Regions from separate parts of the Homo sapiens genome. Here region 2 is linked to region 1. The links come from fine-mapping of genetic effects on gene expression. Tissue or cell type: whole blood. Region 1 holds a variant in brackets; the other region holds the start of a gene. All regions are shown on one strand. Distances are from middle to middle.

Region 1 (6,290 bases):
TTTAGAGAACACATTCAAACTGTAGCATTCATTATAAATGTTACTATAACATGATTAATAATTTTAAAGCAAAAATCTACTAATCATACAACCAAATAAGCCTAATATATCAAATGCAAATATTAAACTTACATGGACTCTAGTAATCATCTAATCATTACACTGGACTGTCTCAAATTGAGTCTATCTCTAGTTTTTTGTAGAGAGTAGAGGAAAGCTTACATCATTTTCATCATGAATGGTTAACATTACAAAACCCACAAAGACATCATCCAGACAAGAGGAAGTTTACTATCAATGAAATTGAATGTGTAGCTCAAACTCTCATTCTATGAAAAATAAAAAACAAACATAACAATACAAGCGGTGGCAAACCAAAAATGATGTTATTTGATGAGTTTACTATAAATTCTAAATAAAAGAAAATGGGAAAAAGCTGATGTAGCAGAGATAAGTATAAACTCAATACTCCTTGTTTTCCTATTACTTGCTTAAAAAGCAAATAAATATCACATTGTGTAACTGTAATGAAAATAAGCAAACATCAAATATTGGGAAAGATTTTTTTTCAAAAAGAAAATCCAAACTGACTTTCAACTATTAATAACTTGAGCTTCCCAATGGGACGGCTTGGTTTTGGATTCCTGCTGTTGTTGTTGTCATTGCTGTTTTTAAAAGATAATGTTATAGGCTTTCTCCATTAAGCAGAACAATCTTGTATGTATTCTCTGTCTTTTCTGGGAAATACTCTACCAAATTCCATTATTGATCATTTTCATTCCCTTAACTGGATAGATTACATTTTTTTCTTTTATTTTGGGTTCTGGGATATGTGTGCAGAATATGCAGGTTTGTTACACAGGTACACATGTGCCATGGTGGTTTGCTGCACCTGTCAACCCATCATCTAGGTTTTAAGCCCCGCATGCATTAGCTATTTGTCCTAATGCTCCCCACAACCCCCAACAGGCCCCAGTGTGTGTTGTTCCCCTCCCTGTGTTCATGTGTTCTCATTGTTCAACTCCCACTTATGAGAACATGCAGTGTTCGGCTTTCTGTTCCTGTGTTAGTTTGCTGAGAATGGTGGTTTCCAGCTTTATCCATGTCCCTGCAGAGGACATGAACTCATTCTTTTTTATGGATTCATAGTGTTCCGTGGTGTATATGTGCCACAATTTCTTTAACCACTCTATCTTTGATGGACATTTGGGTTGGTTCCAAGTCTTTGCTATTGTGAATAGTGCTGCAATAAATGTATGTGTGCATGTATCTTTATAGTAGAATGCCTTATAATCCTTTGGGTATATACCCAGTAATGGGATTGCTGGGTCAAGTGGTATTTCTGGTTCTAGATCCTTGAACAGTCGCCACACTGTCTTCCACAATGGTTGAACTAATTTACACTCCCACCAACAGTGTAAAATCATTCCTATTTCTCCACATCCTCCACAACCTGGCCAGCATGTGTTGTTCCCTGACTTTTTAATAATCGCCATTCTAACTGGCATGAGATGGTATCCCATTGTGGTTTTGATTTGCATTTCTCTAATGACAAGGGATGATTAGCTTTTCTCATATGTTTGTTGGCTACATAAATGTTTTCTTTTGAGAAGTGTCTGTTCATATCCTACATTAAATTTTTTCTGTTTTGTTTTTGTTTTCTATTTTCTCTTATCTTGCTCACTAAAGAATAGTTTTAAAATAATATTAGATGAGGTAATAGCAGTTAACAAATATTGAGTAATAATTACAAGTCAAGCATTCTTCCAAGCACCTTATGTATAATAAATTCATTTAATTTTCAGAACAATCTTATGGGGTAGGTGCTATCATTATCACTGTTGTAGAGATGAAGAAACTAAAGAACAGAGGATTTAAATTATATCCCAAGGCTACCTAGCTAAGGTGTTAAATTTCAAATCCACTTGATAATACAAGAAGACCATGTAGGTTAATTTTCGCTATATGATGAAATGAATATGTAAAATACAAAAATTCAAAGGTTATGTCAATTAAAAAAACACTTTTCAACAATGTTGAATTATTTAACTCAGCACTATCTTCTTTCAAATTACCACTTTCACATAACAATAAATTACACTAAAGTTAAGACACAAGGGGCTTCTATCTTCATGTCTTCAAACAGAATTTGACATTTTGTTTTAAAGACAACATCAGCTGAAAGTTTCTTCTAAGCAGAAGTGAATATGGTAAATTTCATACTATACAGAGTTATGTTCAACATCAGAGAGGTTTAAGAAACCTCCTCAATGTTCCTCAGGGACCAATTTAAAAAATAACCCACTTTGCAAGGATCTCACCCTCAACAAACCCAGTAGCAGCTTTTTCAGTAATCAAATAAATAGAGAAATAAAGTAATTCAAAAATGGGTAGGTACCCTTTATCTGAACAGGAGCAAACAAAGCCTGGCTGAAGACTACCCTCAGTAATACCTCTTCTTCACAGTATGAGCAGCTGATCTCTGAAATAAACTTGCTTGTGAAGATGCTTAAGTTAACCTCTGCAGAACTTCAGAAAGAGATTAGATAAAGCCCATTAGGAATGACGGTGACTCATCCTAGAAAATAAAGAGACCCACAGGAAGAGGTGATTGTGTATACAGGATACAAACACAAAGACAAATAGTGAAAGAAAAGCAAAACATTAAAGATTGAGCAATTCATTTTTTAAAAAGAATTAATAAATTAATTCAATCGTTGCAATCATCTGATAACCTTTGACAAATAATGATAAATGGTTAAGTAAAATAAAGGATTAAAAAAGTAATTTGTGAAAAATCTGACTAAGAAGTAGTATAATATTAAGTGACCGTGATAACTTAAAATGCATACTGTAAACACTAGAATAACCACTAAATAGACTAAAGAGGTGTAACTAATAAGGCAACAGAGAAGGTAAAATGAAGCACTAAAAAATCACTCAATCTGTAAAAAGACAATGAAAGAGGAAAAGAGGGACAAAATAATAGGCAAAACATAGAACAAAAGAAAAAAGAAATAAACCGCAGATTTAAATCCAATAATATAGAAAATTACATTAAATGTAAATGATCTGAATATTTGCATTTGATAATTAATAATTGTCTCTCTTCAGTGACATGATAATAAACATTGAAAATTATAAGAAACCTACAAAAGGAATACTAGTACTAACAAGGTCACAAAATACATAGTAAATATGGAAAATCAATTATGTGCTGTATA[C/G]TAACAAAGAAAGATGGGAAAATAAAATTTGAAAAAATACATATATTATAATAGCATTCAAAAGTTTAGGGATAAATTTAAGAAAACATGTGCAAGGCCTGTGCACTGAAAGCTACAAAACATTGCTAAGAGAACTTAAAGAGTACCTAAACAGATGAAGAATTATACCTACAAATTGGGTTTGGTGTATACTGCTCAAGAGATGGGTGACTAAAATCTCACAAATCACCACTAAAGAACTTACTCATGTAACCAGATACCACCTGTTCCCCAAAAACCTATGGAAATAAAAAAAGAGATATTGAAGATTGTTAATACGTCAGTTCACAAATTGATATGTAGATTCAATATGATCTTATTCAAAAATCCCAGAAAAAATGTTTTTTAATATTGGGTTTTTTTTTGGTTGCTTTAGTTGTTTTGCTTTTCAGTAGTAATTGAAAGGTAATTCTAAAATTTATATAGAAATGCAATGTACCTAGATTAACCAAGTCCTTTTTGAAAAAGAACAAAGTTGGAGCATTTATATTATCTGACTTCAAGACTTATTATAAAGCTCTGGTAATTGGAGCAATGTAATATTTTATTAAGCATAGACATATAGATCAACAAAAACAGAATAGAGTGTTCATAAATGGATCTATCAATATGTAGCTAATGGATATTCACAAAAGGTCCCAAAATAATTTAACGGTGTAAAGGTAGACTTTTTCAATGACTGGTGGTGCTGAAACAGATGGATATATGAGGGAGCAAAAGGGAGTCTTTATCTTTACATCATACCATACACAAAAATTAAGTGTAAAAAAATGATCATAGAACTAAACATAAAATTTCAACCTAAAAACTTCTAAAAGAAGACCTAAGAGAGATTATTATTGAATATTGGATTAGGCAGATTTCCTAAAACACAAACACACACACAAACCATCAAGGAAATAAAAGCAATAAACTAGTCTTCATCAAATTAAAAACTGGTGTTTTCAAAATACACTGTTAAGTCACTCCATCTTCTAACTTCAGGCTCTAAAAGAGACCTCTTCCCTCTGCTTGAGGAGAGGAGAGGGAGAAGTGGTGAGGACTTTGTCTTGCATTTTGGATACCAGTTCAGTCACAGCCAGATATGGTACCAATCAGAGATGTGAGGCCCCCTTTCCAGGACCTAGTTCCCAGATGGCATTTCCAGACACACCCTGGGCTAGAAGGAAAATTGCTGTCTTGAAAAGAAAACCCCAGTCCAGGCAGGATTTATCACCTGTTAACTGAAGAGCCCTTGAGTCCAGAATAATCAGCAGAAATATCCAGGTACTATCTCAAGAGCCTTGGATGAGACTGTCAGACTAGCTGACTTCAGGTGAGAATCAGCACATTCCCAGCTGAGGCAGATATGGGGCAAGAGTCCCTCCATTTCAGAAAAGTGGAGGGAAAAGTAAAGGAGACGTTGACTTGTGTCAAAGATACCAGCATGGCCGCAGTAGAGTAAAGCACCAAGCAAGATTTTTGGGTCCCTGATTCCAGGACTTGGCTCTTGGATGGCATTTCTGGGCCTGCCCTGGGCGAGAGAGAGGCCCATTACCCTGAAGTGTGAGTCCTAAGCCAGACAGCATTCACCATCAGTTGAGTCAAGAGCCCCTGGGTCTTGAAGGAATATTGGTGGTAGTCTGGCAGTGGTCCTGCATCTGCAGTGACAGTGGCCAAAGGATGAGGCTCCTTTACCTTTGGAAAGGAGAGGGTAAAGAGTAGGAAGAACTGCATCTTGTGGCTTGAGTGTCAGCTCAGTTGCAGTACAAAAGAACACAAGGCAGACTTCTAAGGTTATTGACTGTAGTCCCTGGCTCCTGATAACACCTCTGGACACACCTGGGGCCTAGGGGAACTCACCATCCTGAAGGGAAGGACATAAGCCTGACTGACTTTGCCACTTGCTGGTTATAGAGCCCCAGGGCCTTGAGTGAACATAGGCCATAACCAGGGAGTTTTTTCAGATGGCCTTGGATGAGAGAGACAGTGCTGTGCTAGCTTCAAGTCTGACCCAGTATAGACATAGTGGTGGTGACTACGGGAATGTTCATATTACTCCATCCCAAGTCCTAGGTGACTCAGAAGAGAGAGAGTGACTTAATTCATTTGGGAGAAAGTAAGAAAAGAAAATAAGGTTTCTACCTAGTAATCCAAATAATTCTCCTGGACCTCGTCCAAGACCATCAAGGCAGTACGTCTACAAGTCTGCAAGAACCACAGTGTTATTGAGCTTGGGGTGCCCCCTGAAGCAGATAGAGCATGAATCACAGACCCAAGTCATTTTGAATATCTGGGAAGCCTTCTCGAGAAGAATGGATAAAACCAAGCTCAGGCTGAAAAGACTACAATAAATACCCAACTCTTCAATGCCCAGATATAAATTAACATCTACAAGTATCAAGATATTTCAGAAAGGCTGGGTGCAGTGGCTCATGCCTGTAATCCCAGCACTTTGGAAGGCCAAGGCTGGTGGATCACTTGAGGTCAGGAGTTTGAGACCTCCCTGGCCAAGATGGTGAAACCTCGTCTCTACTAAAAATACAAAAATTAGCCAGGTGTGGTGATGGGCACCTGTAATCCCAGCTACTCTGGAGGCTGAGGTGGGAGAATCACTTGAACCCAGGGTGGGGAATCTGCAGTAAGACAAGATTGCACCATTCTTCTCCAACCTGGGTGACAGAGTGAGACTCTGTCAAAAAAAAATTTTTTTTCAAGAAAACATAATCTCACCAAATGAACTAAATAAGACACCAGGGGCCAATCCTGGAGAAACAGAGATATGTAACCTTTCAGACAGAGAATTCAAAATAGCTATGTTGAGGAAACTCAAAGAAGTTTAAGAAAACATAGAAGGAATTCAGAATTCTACCAGATAAATTAAATGAAGAGATTAAAAATAAGAATCATGCAGAAATTCTGAAGCTGAAAAATGCAATTGGCATACTGAAGAATGCATCAGAGTATTTTCATAACAGAATTGATCAAGCAGAAAAAAGAGTTGGTGAGCTTGAAGACAGGTTATTTGAAAATGTACAGTCATAGGAG
Region 2 (5,000 bases), 370 kb after region 1:
AAGATGTCGTGACATCACCATGGATGCAGAATGGCCTTATCTTCACATGGGAAAGTCCCAGTTGTTAGAAAAGGTGCTGTTCATCATAAAAGTTTTAAGGGGAAATGAAAAGGTGGTGAGTGCAAACAAAAGCTTGGGGCAGAGTTGGGGCATCTACTTCAGTGGAACATAACTCATTGTTAGTTTTTTAGCATAGTTTATGGGTCTTTCCTGTATGATAAAAAAGTCCAGGCAAGAAGTGACTGGTGACCACATACAATAATGAATTTGAAAATATTAAAATTGTAATTTTTAAATTGTAATCTTGTCTCTGCAATATATGCTGAGTGTTACCACACAGTTATTATTTTACAGATGAGGAAAGTGAGGCTCAGAGAAGCTAAACCCCTTACTTACTCAAAATCACACAGACAGCAATAGTCAAGAGTGGAATCCCAACTAAGCTCTGGCAGACTGAATCCTAAACTTTCCGTACACCGAAGAGCCACACGTACTGCTGGCTTCCTTCCCTGACTTCATTATTTTGCCTAACATCAATAGCATGAACCATTTATTCATGATTGCCCTCGGTGAAGCCATTTTCTCATTCGTTTAGGGGAAGACATTGTTTTCTTTATTAATGAGAAGAGAAAACGGTTAACAAGAGTTTGTGTCCCTAATTGAAATGATTCTTAAGATGAAAAGATAGAAAAACATGAAACCCTGCTTAAAACAAAAGGCTAAAATCAGAATTTATGGAGATGGATCAATCCAACAGTAAAGAAATCAATTTTTCCTTCCTTGTCGTTACTTATATTCATCTATCCTTTATTTGGCATTAATACTGTCAGGCCTGACAAAAACAACAATTTACATATTAATAAAATCTAGAATTGTGCTGTGCAACGCAGTAGCCACTAGCCACATGTGGCTCTTGAGCCCTTGAAATGTGCCAATCCCGACTAAGATGTGCCATAAGTGTAAAATATACACTGGATTTCAACTAGTATCTAAAAAACAGAGAAAATATTTAATATTTTAAATCGCATGTTAAAAAACCATTTTGAACATAATGGATTAAATAAATTTAAATTAATTTCACCTGGTTTTTGTTTTGTTTTGTTTTGTTTTTTGAGACAGAGTTTGGCTCTTGTTGCCCAGGCTGGAGTGCAACGGTACGATCTCGGCTCACTGCAACCTCTGCCTCCTGCGTTCAAGCGATTCTCCTGCCTCAGCCTCCAGAATAGCTAGGATTACAGGCATGTGCCACCACGCCCGGCTAACTTTGTATTTTTAGTAGAGACGGGGTTTCTCCATGTTGGTCTGGCTGGTCTCGAACTCCCGACCTCAGGTGATCCGCCCCCCTCGGCCTCCCAAAGTGCTGGGATTACAGGCGTGAGCCACTGCGCCTGGCCACACCTGTTTCTTTTCACTCATTTAATGTGGCTTCTCCAAAATGTAAAATTACATAAGTGGCTTGCATTTGTGGCTCGCATTATATTTTCATTGGACAGCACTGATGCAAGATGAAAAAGAGGGCAGAGTTACACTGAAAGGTAGCACATTTTCTTGAAATTTCTGGAGGGGAAGGTTAACGGGAAGAGAACGAAGCTTGTTAAACGTAGGTGTGACCTACTGTGGTAAACACCTAGGGTGAATTAAAGAGGGGACACATATTTTGATTCCGTTTCTACTCCCTTCCCCCGATGCTAACGGAGCAGGTGACAGTCTCCCAGGGACCACTCCTCAGCAGTCCGCGGGTCTCGGCCGGAGCCGAGTCATTGAACACACCTGTGCGCCAGCGAACCCTGGCGCAGGGTCCACGCCCCCTCCCCCCGTGTTTTTATTTCCCGGGCGTCAACTGTCGGTCTCGCACGTCTCTCCTGAGAACTACCGAGTAGGTCGGGCCTGCCTGTGGTAAGCGTCCCCCTCACCCCTCATCCCTCATCCCCCCCAGCCTGGCCCCGGAACCGAGATGCCCCTGCCCGAGCCTGGCTGCGGGCCGGCAGGTGGCCAAGACGCCACTCGGCGGGCGGCCTGCTGGGCCCGGCGGCCGGCCAGCCGCGAACTGGAGGATCCTCGCGGGCGCGTCCCGGGCCTCCGGGCCGCAGGGGGCCGCTGTGACCCGCCTGCGCCCCTGCCGCGCCGAAGGCGGGGAGCCGGGTTTTGGGGGAGAACTGGAAAGCCGAGGGTAGCCGAGCGGGGCGGGCGCTCTGGAGCGGCGGGTGCTCGGGCTGCCGTCCGCTCCGCCAGAAGCACCGAGCAGCCGAGCCGGGGCCCGCCGCCCTCCTCCTCCATGAGGCCCGAGTGAGGCGCGGCGGCTATAGCCGACCCGCGGCGCCTTCCCCCCGCGTCCTATCGCGAGCGCAGCGGCAGCGGCCCCTGGAGGAGGAGGCGGAGGAGGAGGAGCATGTCGGACGGTTTCGATCGGGCCCCAGGTGCTGGTCGGGGCCGGAGCCGGGGCCTGGGCCGCGGAGGGGGCGGGCCTGAGGGCGGCGGTTTCCCGAACGGAGCGGGGCCTGCTGAGCGGGCGCGGCACCAGCCGCCGCAACCCAAAGCCCCGGGCTTCCTGCAGCCACCGCCGCTGCGCCAGCCCAGGACGACCCCGCCGCCAGGGGCCCAGTGCGAGGTCCCCGCCAGCCCCCAGCGGCCTTCCCGGCCCGGGGCGCTCCCAGGTACGGAGCAGCTCTAAGGGCCCCAGTCCTCCTTGGCGAACGCTTCCCCACGGCCCTCCACGCGTGCCGAGGCCCGACGCGCTGTCTGCGGTCCCCACCCCCGGTTCCCCGAAAGCATTCCCCGAGAGGGCCGCGTGACCGGGTAGGGACGGGCCCGGAACCGGGTTTGGAAGGTGTCTGCTGGAATCCTTTGTGCGCCTGGCTGGGGGGAGGGGCCGGGTGCGCGGTCTCGGAGTTCGGGGTCCCGGGAGGAAGTAAAAATCGCCTCCCCTCAGCAGCCCTCTAAAGCGAGACCCTAGCGAGTAACCACCTCTTTTCCACCGACCCCTTTAAAACGACAGAGAGGAAAAAAGCTCGCAAGCACTCATTTGAGAGGCAGGTATGCCCATAACGGAGTCACAGCAAGTCTATTGTTCCTTTTTGTAGGCTGTCTGTACACATTCCGGCGATAACCATAAATTTCATGATGGTTCCTGTTTAACTCTTAAAAACAGACGCTTTTCAGATGGTTTTTCAGTATATAGCAAGTTGCTGTACAAAGGAAAGAATGCATCTGACGCCCCGTTTTTTTTTCTTTTGCAGAGCAAACGAGGCCCCTGAGAGCTCCACCTAGTTCACAGGATAAAATCCCACAGCAGAACTCGGAGTCAGCAATGGCTAAGCCCCAGGTGGTTGTAGCTCCTGTATTAATGTCTAAGCTGTCTGTGAATGCCCCTGAATTTTACCCTTCAGGTTATTCTTCCAGTTACACAGTAAGTACACCCTTTTTCCTACAACTCTGGGTTAATTTACTGGAATAATGTGGTTGTTACTTTGTTAATCAGAGTATGTTTGTGCTTTCTGTACTACACGTAAAAAAATTTTTTTATTGTGAATGTTTTGAATTATTGAACTCAGAAGGAAACAAAGCTGATTCAGAAATACATTTTGTAGTTATATTCAAGGTATTAGAATGTAAGCTTGAGATACACATCTGTGTTCTTGTTTCTAGTGATTATTCCATTATGTTAAAATAGACATAGTTTTGATCCTAATTATTGTATGCAGAAATGTCCTACGGGGTTGTGATAAAGTATTTACATAGGTATAAAGAATGTTTAAACTTTCAGTTTTTCTTTGTCACTTATATAACAACTTTAAAAAATAGTCACTTTTCTTAAATAGCCGTACAAAGCACAGTTGGAATATGTAGAAAGGAATTTGTTGTACTGGATAAACCCAGATGAGTAAATGCATAGGGATTAATTATAGAGAAGTGGGAGGGAATCATTGGAGAAATGATTGATGATACTTTAGCTTAAATCCTGTCTTTCCTATCTTCTTAGTTTTATTGAAGTATAGCAGAGAATAGTGTACTTAAGTGTTAGCTCAGTCTCATAAAGTGAACACTCAACTAACCAGCATCCCAGTCAGGAAATAGAACATTATCAACATCCCGAAAACCCACTCTGTCTCCTTCCAGTTGTTCTTGATGTCCAAGTATAGCACTGTTTTGACTTCATAGGATAGTTTTGCCTGTGTTCAAAGTTTATATAAATAAAGTCATATAGAATATATTCTTTCTCACTTTCAATATCAAGATTACTCCATATTGTAGCATATAATTGGAGGTGACTTATTTTTATAACATTCCATTGCATGAATATATCCCATTTGTCTGTTGATGAACGTTGGTAGCTTTCACTCTTGGGTTATTATGAATAGGGCACATTTTGTGTCTTGCTGGCTGTATGCCTTTATTTCTTTTTGGTATATTACCAAGGTATGGAGTTGCTGGGACTTAGGGTAGCCAGCTTTAGCAGAGACTGCCAAGTAGTTTTCCAGAGATTGTTCCACTGTACATTCTGAGTAGTGTATGATTTCCAGTTACTCTGCTTCCTGGTCGGCACTTGGTATTTTCTGTTTAACCATTCTGGTGGGCATATAGTATCTAGTTGTGGTTTTAATTTATATTTCCCTTATAACTGATAATGACACACCTTTTTTATTACCTCTTTTTGGCTCTCCTTCCATATTTGACAGTAAAAGTATGGAAAAAGCTGTGTTCCATGTTTTAGATACTCCATGATTCTTATGCTGTATAGGAAAAAGCTTTGGGATTGGAAAGAAAAAGATACAGGCATAGCAGGAAAAGCAATTGATATGGGGTGAAAAAGGCCATCTATCGTGTAAGGTAGAAATGAGAGCATCTTGAGTTCTTGCCAGAAAATTGTATTTAGCTCACAGAGGAAAAGAACCATTAGAGCCACTGTAAGAGGTTGAATAAACTCTTAAGGATGCTTGTTCTAGCAGCTACAAGCAGGTTCCCATTTATTTTCTTCCCTATTGACTTGGGCTGTTTTATGA

Evidence for each region. PIP is the estimated chance that this variant, and not a neighbour inherited with it, causes the effect.
Region 2: PAIP1 starts here. The variant in region 1 is fine-mapped to the expression of PAIP1 in whole blood (INTERVAL, PIP above 0.99).

What each region holds. Positions count from the first base shown.
Region 1 is chr5:43,923,391-43,929,680 of GRCh38, reverse strand. No RefSeq gene overlaps it. Among named protein-coding and RNA genes, the nearest start is that of NNT-AS1, 320 kb to the right of the region's middle. RefSeq lists an enhancer at 3,668-3,837. The variant C/G (reference allele first, on the strand shown) is at 3,225.
Region 2 is chr5:43,554,236-43,559,235 of GRCh38, reverse strand. PAIP1 (poly(A) binding protein interacting protein 1) reads left to right here and starts at 2,159. Exons shown (of 11, transcript NM_006451.5): 1 at 2,159-2,654; 2 at 3,237-3,406. The coding sequence starts at 2,390. RefSeq lists a silencer at 1,864-2,723.